4 linked regions of the Homo sapiens genome follow. The protein of the gene in region 3 interacts with the protein of the main gene of each other region in a biochemical or structural test. Each region holds a gene or a part of one and is shown on either strand. Other genes may lie near its edges.

Evidence for each region. Proteins that work in one complex are often made in the same cells at the same time.
Region 1: the proteins of KIF17 (region 3) and FRMPD4 interact in a test that uses a peptide from one of them, tested with the Homo sapiens proteins (one large-scale study listed by IntAct).
Region 2: the proteins of KIF17 (region 3) and ARHGEF11 interact in a test that uses a peptide from one of them, tested with the Homo sapiens proteins (one large-scale study listed by IntAct).
Region 4: the proteins of KIF17 (region 3) and GRIP2 interact in a test that uses a peptide from one of them, tested with the Homo sapiens proteins (one large-scale study listed by IntAct).

What each region holds. Positions count from the first base shown.
Region 1 is NC_000023.11:12,715,473-12,718,972, reverse strand, and holds part of FRMPD4 (FERM and PDZ domain-containing protein 4), read right to left. Parts: intron 2,905-3,500; coding exon 1,840-2,904; intron 1,473-1,839; coding exon 183-1,472; intron 1-182. UniProt on the Homo sapiens protein: Positive regulator of dendritic spine morphogenesis and density. Required for the maintenance of excitatory synaptic transmission. Binds phosphatidylinositol 4,5-bisphosphate.
Region 2 is NC_000001.11:156,948,243-156,951,742, reverse strand, and holds part of ARHGEF11 (rho guanine nucleotide exchange factor 11), read left to right. Parts: intron 1-43; coding exon 44-170; intron 171-1,725; exon of another isoform or gene 1,726-3,117; coding exon of another isoform or gene 3,118-3,170; intron 3,171-3,223; coding exon of another isoform or gene 3,224-3,244; coding exon 3,245-3,424; intron 3,425-3,500. UniProt on the Homo sapiens protein: May play a role in the regulation of RhoA GTPase by guanine nucleotide-binding alpha-12 (GNA12) and alpha-13 (GNA13). Acts as guanine nucleotide exchange factor (GEF) for RhoA GTPase and may act as GTPase-activating protein (GAP) for GNA12 and GNA13.
Region 3 is NC_000001.11:20,683,508-20,687,007, reverse strand, and holds part of KIF17 (kinesin-like protein KIF17), read left to right. Parts: intron 1-881; coding exon 882-962; intron 963-1,987; coding exon 1,988-2,199; intron 2,200-3,500. UniProt on the Homo sapiens protein: Dendrite-specific motor protein which, in association with the Apba1-containing complex (LIN-10-LIN-2-LIN-7 complex), transports vesicles containing N-methyl-D-aspartate (NMDA) receptor subunit NR2B along microtubules.
Region 4 is NC_000003.12:14,488,607-14,491,974, reverse strand, and holds the end of GRIP2 (glutamate receptor-interacting protein 2), read left to right. Parts: 3' UTR 1-2,868; downstream 2,869-3,368.

The DNA.
Region 1 (3,500 bases), on a different chromosome or scaffold from region 3:
TTTATAATCTTTAGTATTTATTAAATACCAGGGGATCAATGATTGGTACTTTACAGTTCTGTGGCCTTTTAAAATTCTACCTTTTACTTTTCTTCCAGACATTACGTTTTTAAGTTTGTTGTAAATATGGTTTACATGCTCTTGGCATGTCATACAAAGTGCTAAATCCATCATTGCTGTACCTGTGGTTTCCTTAATCTTGGGGAGCCGATGGCATCCATCTCTCAATGTGCCAAACAGGGGTTCGGTGTTAATGGCTGTGTGCAGAGCAGGCACTGTCATCCGTGGACACATCCCTTCTGTCTGTGGGTGCAGTTCCTTAAAGGTGGCTCCGTGGTTGGGAAGCCCAGGGGCTCTCTCCTCTGAAGGAATGTAATTCACGCCTTTCCCAGAAGCGTCAGGAATCAAGTGCTTCCCCAGGGAGGGGCAGAGCGGCGACTCCACGGGTGTGGCACAGGCACTGCCACTGCTGCCTGTGCCACAGCCTGCATCCACTGAAGAGCCTTGGGAGCTCTGCAGAGAAAAATGGCCCTCGCTTTGCAGTGATGACATCCGCTTGGCCAAGTGGTAGTCACAAAGGCGGGCCACACTCTCATCAGCCTCAGGAAGCTTGGAAGGATGGTCGCAGGTGGACGAGTCAGCGTCCTCTGGGTTATCTAAGTCTTTGGCTGAAGATGCACAGGTCACGTCAGTTAAGAAGCGGTCCCCTTGACCAAGTCCTGAGCCATCACTGGTTTCTCCATCAGGAGCTCCTTCTTCCTTCCCTTCGGCCTCCCTTGCCCCAAGACCAGAAGCTCTTGGAAAGGTTTTCCCTGTTGCTGCTTCTAATCCACTTTTTTCAGCCATCCCACCTTCAGTGGCCACATACCATCTTTGACTGTCCTTGCGAAAGGCAGTTCTCTCCAGATTAAAAGTGCTCAGGTGTTGACTGTCTCGTGAAGACACAGTACCAAATTTACCACTGGCCTCCTCCTCCATCTCTGCCGTTTTGGTCCCCTGCTGTTTTTTTCCTGTTGTGTTCCCATTAGGGGGTGCCTTCCCCTCACCATCGGCCAGCTTGCTTTTCCTTTTGCTAGTGCAGGAGTATGCCACCGACCCCATGTGCAGTTTGCTAAAATAGTCAGTGACCGACTTAGTCTCCATAGTTTCAGGCTCCATCTCCATGTGGTCTGAGTGAAGTAACTGCTTGGAAGGCACAACTTTGGGCGGGAGGTCGGTTGCTGGCCTAGCAGCCAGGGCGTGCGAGGACTTTGGAGGCAAGCCCCCAGCGGGGGTCTTGGAGGCCGGGAACTCGGTCTGCTCTTCTGCAAGGGGGTGGTAGCCTTCGTGAGTGGCCAAGAACATGCGGGAGAGGTTTTCTGACTGTTTTTGTGCTGTGGCCAGTTCAGAACTCTCAGTCATTTCAGAAGAGTTAGTTTCATTGCCCGAGTCTGACGAAGACTCAGGACTATAAGCCCGCAAGATGGCTACACCTGCATGCCGTAAAAAACAAGAACTGATTAATGGATGCATCAGAGGCACTTGGAGACATGTAAGAAAATGGGACTCGTTATTACTAAAACAAAATACCAAGTTTTTCCCTTTTCAGTAAGGACTCTGAGTTTATTGCAGTTTTTCCAGAAATGGGGGTGGGGGGAGATGTGCCTTATGTTTTTAAAAAAAAATAACAAAGGAAATCACATACACACAAAAAAACCCATGATGGCAGTTTCAGCACATTTATGAAATGGGACATGTGTGAAATGGAGAACACCACGTAACAGGACTCCAGGGGCAAATGGCTTGGAAGGATGGAATGATATGGTTATCAGTGAATGAATGTAACAATTGTGAAAGAACCTGAATTGTCACTGGTCTGCTGTTCTTCTGACACGGATAGAGCCTCTAGAGCTCCCAGCGTGGAGACGACGGCATTATCCAGTCCCTTCTCACACTTGCCTTCGGCGCTGGTGGGCACAGCGTCAATGAGGGACACGGGGATCTCATCATTTTGCAGGCTGCTGCCTTTCTCCTTGTCCTCGGGGAAGGAAGCTGCCTGGCTCTGAGAGTCCTCTTCATCTGAACTGTCTCTAAAGCCAGGTGGGGGTGCGGCAATGGCCATGTTCAAGGAACGCAACAGGAAGTCATCCTCATTGTCATCACCTTCTGGAGGGGGCAGGGATGTGAGGTCAATGATGTCATCGCTTGACCCAGACAGGTTGAGGATGGCCGGCTGGTTCATCTCCCCCACCACGAGGTCCTCCTCGCAGCTCACCTCGTCCTCGTCCTCCGCGTCATCAGTGTTTTCTGCATAACAGATGTCATGCAAGAGGGGTTCCTCGATCCCCTCCGCGGCCTGGAAGCTCTTCACATCGCCTATGTTTGCATAAACAGAATTTTCCACAAACTGGATGCCCTCTGCCTCTGGAGTGAGATCCAGGCCCTTCATGTCATTGGCACTGCCAATGTAGAGATTTCTCTGCTTCTCCAGCATTTCAGGACCCTCATCTAGTAGCGTTTCATAGCCAAGGGTTGGGGGACTAATACCATCATCCAAGGCGAAGTCTCCAAAAATAAAGGACACTTTAGCTCCTCTCGGAGATTCCTGTGCTTTCTTCAGAGTTTCTGGTCCTGAGAGGGTCAATAGGGACCGCTGAGCTAGACTTCTGTAGTCTGCCTCACAGGGGGCCTCCCCGGGCTGGCTCAGCTGCTGGTTAAGTCCATCTGAACTATAGGCATTGTCTATGTACAAGTGCCGGTGCTCTTTTGGACACATGGTGCTGTCTGTGATCTCCACCGTCTTCTGCTTTGAATCTATGTATGTTATCTGGGCTTCTTGTTCCCCTTCGCCAATAAAGGTGGTCATTTGGGGTATACAGTTCCAATCTGGGCCAAGGAGGTTATGCTTCCCCTTGTTTTCAGGTCCTAAAGAGAAAGAATCACGCAAAGACACATTACTGTACTGTCTGGTTTTGGGTGGGGCGGGGGTGGGAGGCTCGTCTCTGTTTTTTAACTTAATGGCTTGTAGCATCACTTATGTAAATACAGTTTTTCAACTACCCAAATATAGTACTTATTGATTTAGGCTTCAGGTGTAAGAATTCCTTGGGTTAGGAGAACCGACCTTAACAAAATTGATACTGCATAAACTGTAATTGCTATTTGATAAAATGTAATACCATCTGGGGGTAGGGAAGTATAGCTTAATTCCATCTGACCCTTGGTTCTATTATTAAAAGGCTTCATTCATATCTACAAATGTAAATATACAACATGTCTTTTACCCTTAAAGGTGAGATTTCAATAGGCCGTTATTCCAGAACATTAATTGTTCTTTTCCTTGTAAGGTGAGATTTAATATTCCCTACTTCATGGAGGAAGATATTGAGTGTTTTCCTCATTGAATTCAGAGACGGTCAAGGATCGTCAGAGTTTTACCATAGTTTTTAGGAAATTAAGATAAATGTTGTAATGATAGTACAAAACTTCTATCTTCAGTCTTTTGATATCCTAGTGGATGT
Region 2 (3,500 bases), about 140 Mb from region 3:
TGAACAGCAAGCCTAGTGTCCTTCATTTTCTTTTTGCTTCTAGTCAAACCAGGCAATGTGAGGAACATCATTCAGCACTTTGAGAACAACCAGCAGTATGATGCCCCAGAACCTGGGACACAACGACTCTCGACCGGAAGCTTTCCTGAGGACCTGCTGGAGAGTGACAGGTAGCACTGGCTGGATGGGACTCGCCAGCTGCTCGAAGAGTGGGTCATGGGCAGGGCTGATGCTAGGGTTTAATTCCAGCTACTTGACCCCTCTCCACTAGCTTCTAAGGCTCCCTTTACAGAACTTCCTCCCCACCCCCAGTATCTTCAGGAGACACATTGTGTGCCAGTGAACAGGCCAGTGGAAGAGCAAGCAGATCCCCGACTTCCAGCCCAAGAACTACACACTTTTCAAATTCCCTTTGGATTTATCACCTGACTACTCAGTAGCCTTCATCCAAGATCGAGCTAGGTGATAAAAAGCAGCTAATCAGGAAACCCTAAGTGACAAGGATAAGGAAGACTATAGTGGGGGCAAGAGGGAGTCCTGGGGAAAAAAGACCCAGGCAGGCAAAAGAAAGTGGTTTCCTGTCTGTATGTGAAGAAGAGAGCCAGAGATGAGGTTCTGCTGGGTACTTTAAAGACAAATGATGTAACTATAGGCATCAGATGTCCACCTCAGCAAAGAGAGGCAAAGTGGATTGATTACAAATGGACTGTTTTTCCCTTTTCAAGAAGAAAAAGGGGAATTGAGACTGGCATCTCTCATATTCTTCTTTGGTCAGGTTCTAACTAGAGTCCCCATCTGGTATGAAAACTTGTTCTTGGACTTACTTGCTCTTGATTGTGGCATGACAGCAGTCAAGTCATGTCTAAAATTCTATAGCCAACACTTAAAAACCAACACCACCCTTAAAGGTGACTTAAACAGGTAGAGTAATATGGTCTTGTGTGGGGGGAAATAATGCTTGTGTACAGTCAAGCCTCAGAGCCACTGAGCTGGAGTATAGGCAGGCATGAAAGCAAGTCAGTATGCAGCAGCGTGGATATTCAAGCCATTTTGCCTTCGTTTGTTTGTTTGTTTGTTTTGGGGATTTTTTTTTCTTTTTTAAAGAGACAGGATCTTTCTCTGTCACCCAGGCTGGATTGCAGTGGTGCAATCATAGCTCACTGCAGCCTCAAACTCCTGGGTTCAAGGGATCCTCCCACCTCAGCCTCCTGAGTAACTAGGGATACAGGCATGCACCACTGCACCTGGCTAATTGATTTTTATTTTTATTTTTTTGAGACAGTCTCACTATGTTGCCCAGCTTGGTCTCGAACTCCCAACCACAGCAATCTTCCTGCCTCAGCCTCCCAAAGTGCTAGGATTATAGGCATGAGCCACTGCACCTGGCCTATTTTGCCTTTGAAATAACTAATTATCAAACCATAAGCCAACCTTTCCTGCTTGAATGCAGGTTACTCCTTTCTGTTTATATGAAGCCTTTTTTCAGCTTAACACGTGTTAAAAGATTTTGCTGCCATGAGAATTGACAGATTTACAGGAGACAAAGGTTAGATTTGTACTGGGGGAAGGTTGAGTTCTAACATTAATGGGTAAGTTAAATACGCAAATTATGTGATTCCTGTGGAAGCACATGATGTCGTAGATATATCAAATATTTTAAGATTATAAGACATCAACATTTTGAGAAAATATTTGAGACCATTTACAAAGTTGCATTCTTGGCATTGCTAGGTAAATTTGCCCTAAGACACTTGCTAGGATCCTAAAGCTACTCTAAGCAGAAGCCTTTGGGTTTGATGATTATCAACTCATTGGCAATCTCAGAAGAAATAGTATTAGCAATATGGTGGGTCAGAGATTGTTGTAGATACTCAACAGGTATAAGATGCCCCAGTTCTAGAAGGCAATACCCTAGGAATTTGGGGGCAAAGACAGATGATATGCCTCACTTCTTGGTGAGGAGCATTACTTACTTCTGGGTGCTTGAAGGAAGGTGCTTAGCTCTGCAGCCCCAGTAACTCCACTGGGTGTTTGTTGTGGTGGTACAGTGACCCATTAGGACACTGAAAAGTGTTCCGAGTTAGTCTGGGTTGGGATTGTTCTAACACAATTCTGGAGGGTGAATTCAATAAGGGATCAGTGGGCAGTATGTTTTCTAACCCTGCAGACAAAACCCTCAGGACCCTAGGAGATGAGCTCCATTTTGGATCATCTGGCAGTTTGGGCACAATGAATGGAGACCGAGACATTTAGCTCCTCATTGCAGCAACCTGCTGTGCTATTAAGAGCTCTGCAGACATTTCCAGGCCTCCTGTGGTCCTAGAAGCAGAGCAGGATGTAGATTACTAATAATATCAGAAAACCAGCCCAACAGGGCCACAGCATGGAGGTGGGGTGACCATCCTGGGGCAGCTAGGGGTCAGAGGTGCCAGCTGTCTTGGGCTGATGCACTGCAGGACTCGACACCGCAACACCCAGTCATCAGCATCTCATCAAACCCCAGAGACACTCAGTAGCCAAGCACGGCAGGCCAAGGAGCGGGTCCTGCCTATCAGTAAAAAGGCCCCTTTAAGCACAAGCCTGTCTGCTCTTGAGAGGAAATGGAATCTTAGGAACAGTATTGTTAAGATAAGAATGGAACTCATCCACATCACAACTGGAAGGCTAAGAATCCAGCAGCAGATAGAACTTTCTGACAGGCAGTGTGGAAAATCCTAAAATGAGCTGTGAATATAGTGACTCCACTTTCCTCTTAAGACCTCTTAAAAGAGGTTCGCCTCAGGCAGAGTTAAAGGTGGGAGCTGACCCGTTCCAAAGCAGAGGCAACGTGAACTGGCCACTAGGGGCAGGGAGCTGGGACCTTGTGTTCCCTGTTGAGGGACGATGATGTCTACCACCTTCTTGACAGAAGCATGGTGTCTCAGGCCTCTGGACACACTACAACTCAGAGTCTGTTAGCCCCAGATTTCATCTTCCTGTTAGGATCCCTTCCTAATAGCTCCAGAGGAAGATGACTGTCCATCCATCAGGCTAGGCTGGGGAGAGAGGAGGAGTTTGTAGAGCAGCAAAAATAGTCTGTCATTGAGAAGCTTCCACTGCCATCCAGCTGCTTTGGCCATGTTCAGGAGGAGAACCTGTGGCACGGAGGCATCTTTGAGATGGAGCCACAGGTAAGAGTTAGCCAGGATGTAAGCATGGCCCACTGACTTCCCAAGTCCCAAAGTCTTTTGTCCCTTCCCCCCAGTTCACGCTCAGAGATTCGCCTGGGCCGCTCTGAAAGCCTCAAGGGCCGGGAAGAGATGAAACGGTCTCGAAAGGCAGAGAACGTGCCCCGCTCTCGCAGTGATGTTGACATGGATGCTGCTGCGGAGGCTACTCGCCTGCACCAGTCAGCCTCGTCCTCTACCTCCAGCCTCTCCACCAGGTGGGCAGGGCTACAACGGCTGCACCCATGGACATCTCAGGGGTGGCGGCAAGGATAGAGGGTTGCTGAGAGTTGA
Region 3 (3,500 bases):
GTGAGCTGGGTGGGGGGTCTGTGGGAATCCAGCCACCTTTCAGTGACCACGAGGCTTCTGGGATACTGCTCTTCCTCCATCTGGCCCCCTGACCAACATCTTCTCCCTTTTCAACAACCCTCTTGTTTTTAAAACAATGTTCCTCTTGGCCAGGCACATTGGCTCACGCCTGTAATCCCAGAACTTTGGGAGACCGAGGTGGGTGGATCACCTGAGGCCAGGAGTTCAAGACCGGCCTGGCCAACATGGTGAAGTGAAACCCCATTTCTACCTAAAATATAAAAATTAGCCAGGTGTGGTGGCGTGCACCTGTAATCCCAGCTACTCAGGAGGCTGAGGCAGGAGGATCACTTGAACCCGGGAGACGGAGGTTGCAGTGAGCCAAGATCGCACCACTGTGCTCCAGCCTGGGCGACAGAGCGAGACTCCATCTCAAAGAAAAAAAAAGTCCTATTTTCTCCTCTCTTTGTTCTCTGCTTTCCTTTCCTCTGTGTGTGTGTGTGTGTATTTTGTGTGTGTGTGTCTGTGTGTGTGTATTTAGAGAGAGAGATCCCAGGTCTACCACTTCCTTGGTTGTGTGACCTTTCTGGGCTGGGTTTCCTCATCTGTAAAATGAGGTTGCTTCAGAGGAGTGGATGCAGGCAACGCTCCTGGCACACAGCAGGTGCCCACCACACGCCTGTCTTCCGTTTCCTCTCTTCCCTGTTCTCTCCCTCATCTCTTCCCTCCTTTGTGCTCCTTCTCTCGGGAGTGACAGGCAGGGGAGGTTGGGGGGTGGTGGGAGGCCTTGGGGAGTTGAAGTGAGGCCAGGGGTGAGGGAGTAAAGGATGGTTCTGGCCCAAATCAGCCTTCTTTCTCCTCCATCCCCTCTTTCCTCCCAGGTCCCTGCGCCGACAGACCTGCTGGAGCCCAGTGATGCCAGGCCCGAAGCCGAGGCGGCTGATGACTTCCCGCCCAGGCCTGTGAGTACCTCCCCGGGCCTCCATGTGGGGGACGGGGTTCTCTTCAACTTCCTGGGAAACTCCAGCTTGTCTTCTCCCTCCCTGAGCTTCAGTTTCCTCATCCATGAGCTGAGAACAACAACTCCAGCCTTCCCCGGGCTTGTGGCCCGTGGCCAGGCAGTGTGCAGTGGGAGGAACCATCATCTTCTTCTTATGGAGTGAAAGTGGCCTGTTGTTCTAGATGGTGGCTTTCAAACCTTCCTTAGCCTTGTCGCCCTTTGTGTAAAGGAATTGAGGCCCAGTGTGTGCAAAGGACGAGGGCTGCAGGTCAGGGCTGGTGGCCCCTATGACACCATCGGGGAACCCAATTTGAACACCCCAGGGGAGCAAAAGGAGAGGAAGCTTTAAATCTCCCTACATTTATAGAGGAAGAAGACAGTTTGGACTCAAGTGTGGGCTGGGCACCGGGCCTGCAGCAGGCTCTCAGCAGGGCGTAGATGGAGCAGCCGGGGCAGCCCTGGCTAGGAAGTGACTCTGGGGTGGGACCCAGGCGTGAAGGAGGGACGGGGGGAAGCAGCAAGCAGAGGGGATAGCAAGTGCCAAGGTCCTATGGCTGGAAAGACCTTGACTTTCTTAGCAATGGAAAAGGAGGCCACGGTGGCGGGGGAGGCCGTGGAGGCAGGGAGCCGGCAGGGAGGAAAGTGGACTTTCCTGCGAACGTGACGGGAAGTCACATGGGGCTCATCGGGAACGGGATGTGATCGGTTTCTATTTTAAGATGGCCCTGGCTGCCTGTGGAGACTGGATTGTGGGAGGTGAGAGAGGAAGCTGGGAGCCTTCCTCCTAGCGTGGGGGTGTCAGTGGGAATAGCGGCAGTAAGAACTCAACAGGGCGTGTTTTTGTGTCACTGGTGTCCCTGAGCTGGAGGTGATCTGTCGGGGCTGCAGCAGGCGGAATGGCCCCGTCTGGGATTGAGCCACCTGGGAGCTGTCGGCGGGGGTTGGGGCGGCCTTCCCACCTCCACCTGGGTTTCTCTTCACACTCAGGAGGTAGATCTGGCCTCGGAAGTGGCCTTAGAGGTGGTGCGGACAGCAGAGCCTGGCGTGTGGTTGGAGGCTCAGGCCCCGGTGGCCCTGGTGGCTCAGCCTGAGCCCCTGCCGGCCACAGCTGGTGTGAAGAGGGAGAGCGTGGGCATGGAGGTGGCAGTGCTGACTGATGACCCGCTGCCCGTTGTGGACCAGCAGCAGGTGCTGGCCCGGTAAGCAGCAGAGCATGGGGCTGGCGGGACCCCACGGTGAGGTGGGAAGGGGCTGCCTTCCAGGATGGAGGCGGGGGTGCCATAGCTTCCTCCCAGCTCTCCCTTCTAACTTGGCAGGGCGGCCCTGATCCTCTCTCCAGGCGCAGTGGGGACTAGGCGGGCAGGGCTCTGCTCCAGACACAGGCTGCCACCAGCATCCCTTGTCAGGCCTGCTGGCCTTCAGGTTTCAGGAGTCCCAGGGCAGAGTGTCGCAGGCTTTTCTCCCATCCCAGCCAAGCCCCCAGCCCCCTGGCCTCCAGTGCCCTCCTGAATGTGAGACCCACTCACCCACAGGACAAGCCATCCCCAGGCACTCTCTGGGACCGCCGGGGGAGCTGGGCTTTCCTCACTTGCCGTGTGGCTTTGTTAGGTTACTTAACTTTTCTGAGCCTCGGTTCTCACTTCCGTTAATGATGATGTCAGCCCGACCTCCATGTCGTGGTCATCCAGGGGTTCAACAGGCGGAGACCCAGTCCCAGAGGCCACAGTTCAAACACTGAGCGACCCCTGAGTGCTGGGCCCAGGACACAAGGATGAGCAAGCTGCTGCCTCAGCCCCAAGGGCCCACAGGCCAGGGCGGAGGACAGGCAGGGCCAAGAGGGTCCTGTTCTCTAGCAGTTCCCAGCCTGCCTCCTCCACTAGCTCTGCCACCTCGGGCCAACTTGCAACCTCTCTGTGCCTTCACTGCCCATCTTCAGAATGGGCGATATCAGTAGTCCCAGTGTGAGAAGCTTGTGGTGAGGGTCAAAATGGGCATTGCCTGCAGCGTGGCAGCCCCGCGCTGGGCACGCAGTAAACACTTGGCACATGTCCTGGCTGTTTTCACAGTGTGGTGTGGAGGGAAGGCTGGGGGGCCTTCACAGAAGTGGAGACAGCTGAAAAAGGTTTGCTGCAGGGGTGGCATCCTAGAGAAAGGGCACAGCACCTGCAAAGGTGTGGAGGTGGGACCCGGCCCGGGCATTTGGAGACGTGCCAGCCGTGAGTGAAAGCTGGAGTGAACCGCAGAGTGGGGTGCAGGGGAGATAGAGGGAAGACCCTATGTGCCCTCCTCGGGTGCTTGGGCTCCATCCTGATGGAGACCCACAGCAGGATGTTTTTTTCTTTCTTTTTTTTTTGAGATGAAGCCTTGCTCTGTTGCTCAGGCTGGAGTGCAGTGGTGCGATCTCGGCTCACTGCAACCTCTGCCTCCTGGGTTCAAGCAATTCTCGTGCCTCAGCCTCCCAAGTAGCTGGGATTACAGGTGTGCACCATCACGCCCGGCT
Region 4 (3,368 bases), on a different chromosome or scaffold from region 3:
CTGAGGGCCCTGCATGCTTGTGCCTGGGGTGCTCAGCGCCTCTGCTATCTTGGATTCCCGTGTACTCAGCCCAGAGTGAAAGGGCACTGTCTACCTGTCACAGGGCACCAAGTGAAAGCCAAGAGCCCTCACTTTTGAGGGTGAGGGACAGCACAGCAGAGGTGTGGCTTCTGGATGCAAGCAGCCATAGCTGTGTGACCTTGGACAGGTGGCTCAGCCTCTCTGGACCTCTGCTAAGCAACAGGGCTGGACAGGACACACTCTCAGGGCCTCTCGGCTTGGGAAAACTGCATTGACTCCAGGACTCCAGGCGAGGGAAGATGCACCCGACTCTAACTAATACCCCCCTCCCTCCTCGGGCTGAGGCCTCTGCCATTCTCCCAAAAGTATGCAATCAGGCCCGCGGTGGGCCTCCCAGCCATGCCGGCCTCCTCATATGCAATATTTCTTCTGGCTTCTCATGGGGATGGTTCATCCCCGACTTGAAATTTCCTGACACCTTTCCCCAGTGAGCGCCCTGCCTGCCTATGCATTTTGGGAACAGCCCCTGTGACATGTCCCCTTCCACCTGCCCTCTCCCCCAAAGCTGTATTTTTCTCTGGCTGAGATTAGAACACATTCCTTGTAAAGTATTTTTCTACATCGGGTTTTCTTAGGGCTCTCGGGAAGCACAAGGGGCTGTATTGCAAAGGCCGCTTATGGTCTGTTTGGGGCCCTCGTCTAAGTCTTTGTCCCACCAGGGGTTGCAGTGGCTTGGGGGTAGGTGCCATGGGGATGATTTTTTAAAATAAAATTATTTAAATCCACCTAGAGTAGAAGTTTGCTTTTTAAAAAAATCATGGATTGGCAAGAGTCAGCTTCTGTATGGGTCTGGTGACATCTCACCTGCTTTTGATGATTCATTAATTCAAAAAGTTTGCCATTTGCTTCCATCATCCAGCCCCTGGGCAACATGAATCAGACAGATTTAGGTCATGTCTGCACATTCTGGTGGCAGGCAGACAATCAACAAGTAAGCAAATAAATAATTATTTCAAAAGGCATCAAGTGCAACAAAGAAAACAAGGGAGTAACGGGATAGAGGGACCAGGGTGAGGGGCTTTAGCTCACAATATTAGGAGGGGTTTCTCTCAAGAGGCGACATTTGCAATGAGACCTGAAGACAGGAGCCAGCCTCCATGGAGACCTGGAGGAAGAGTGTCTCAGGCAGCGGGCACAGCTAGTGCAAAGGCCCTGAGATAGGAACGAGTTTGACGGTCTCAAGGAAGAGAAAGAAGGCCTGGGAGGGGAATGGGGCTGGAGACTAGGTTGGAGGTAGCAGGAATCAGTCGTGAAGGCTTGGGTAGGGGGAGCAAATTTGATTCTCTGCGCAGCAGAAAGCCAGAGGCAGGCAGTGGTGCCTGCATATGGAGTCTCTTTAGCCCAGGTTGGGAAGGTAGTGGCAGGAGGGCAGCCTCAGGTCTGGCTGCTGCCCTGGAGTGTCCAGAGAGTGTCTAGGGCAGGTGAGCTACAGGGTCTGGGACCCAGAGGCCAGGGCCAGGCCCCACTGGGGAGGCCACAGTTCTGTGAGCAGAGGAAGAGCTTCTTTCCAGGAAGCGAGTACTCTGTCTTGGGAGTGGTGTAGGCAGGGGGAAGGCCAAGGGAGGCAGCAGGCCTTGCTCTAAGCGCTTTGCAAGAGCTTGCTGGATCCTCCCAATAGCCTTTGGAGGTGGGCTCTATTCCTGTCCCATCATTACAGATGAGGAAACAGGCACAGAGAGGTTACGTAATTTGCCCAAGTCCACACAGGTAGTAAGGGATGGAACCAGGGCTTGAACACAAGCCACATGGCCCAGTACACATAGAGAGAGGCAGGCAGGTAGGCATAGGCTGTCAGAAAGAGCCAGAAAATGGGGGTAGGGTGGTCTTCTATTCTAACATTGTCTATAAATGAGTTACTGAGAATTTTGTCTGGTTAGTTGGGCAAAGGGCTCAACTGACTCCCGAGTTTGTCCATCCCAAAGGGTGGGGGGCGCTGTTGGCAGGAAGGCTGCCCCAAACATGGACCTGTTGTGACCCCAGAGAGCCCCTAACTGGGTATTAATGAGCGCCTGCACCTGACGGTGGGGGAGTGGGAGAAGGGCAATCAGGTTTGCTCCCCCTCTACCCTTTCCCCCACTCCGCCACCCGCTTTCTGCCCTTCTGGCAGGTCAGCCCAAGGCTAAAGAGGAGGGACTGAAAGCCGCAGCAGGTGAGCACCTAAGGCCAAGAGCATCACCTCCAATCATCCTGGTGGCCTTGATGGGGACAATGGTTTATTCCAGATGGGGAAACTGAGGCTCAGGTGACTGCTGCCAGATCTCCCAGCTGTACAGGGCTGGGCATGTAGCAGGTAGAATCAGTAGAGCCAGTAGAGCCAAGAGCTCATGGGCCCGGGTGCGAATCCAGGTTCTTTCATGGACTTGCTGTGTACCCCTGAGTGAGCAAGCTGCTTCCTCTGTGAGCCTCCATGTGGGAACCTCTAACCTGGGAAAATACCTACCTTTGAGGAGCGTCCTGGGATTGGACGGGAAGCCCTTTATAAAATGTAAAGCGTTTGGCAAACGTTGAGGGGGAAATACCTCACCAGAACACAACCCACACATGTTGGATGTTAAAAAGGAAATGTTTATTTTCATGTTATAAGGTGATTACAAACTCCTCTAAAAAAAGCAAAGATGAATTTAAAATATTGATATACATATTTATCTAAAAAGCAAAAGAGAAAAAAACCCCTGCAAAATACAGGGAATCATATCATAAAACATTTATACACAAAAGCTTGTATACTGCAAGACTGAACTACACACCAAGGATCTTGTTCAAATACAAATGTTCCTCCTCAGAAAAGTCTCTTGTTGGTTGATTTTTTTTTTATAAAAGTTTAAAATATCTTAAAAATATTTTGAAGTTTTAAAAAAATGTCCTGATGAGCCAGACATATTTCTGGAAGGAGGCAAGACCCACATTCTCAGCTTTCTCTTGTGCTAAATACAGAGTCACAGTTGCTAGGGATTGGGAGATTAATTGGGTAAAAAAAAAAAATGAAGCCAACATCTCAATTTGAAGTCAAATATATAACAGGATGCTCCATCCCTCGGAGAACACGCCAGAACATGTCTGTAGTGACACCCACAAGAGAACAATGCAAAAATGCTTCCTATTACAACAATATATATTCTGAGGATCAGGGAGAGAAGGAAAGGGGGAGGGCTGCCCCCTGCTTTCTGGACTGCCCACCTCTACAAGTTTGGCTCTCTGGGTTTGTTTTGTTTAGTCTTGTGGTTTTGTACTTCGATTTTTGCACACAGTGGTATTTACCGTGTCCCAGGCAGCCTGGCCTGGGACCA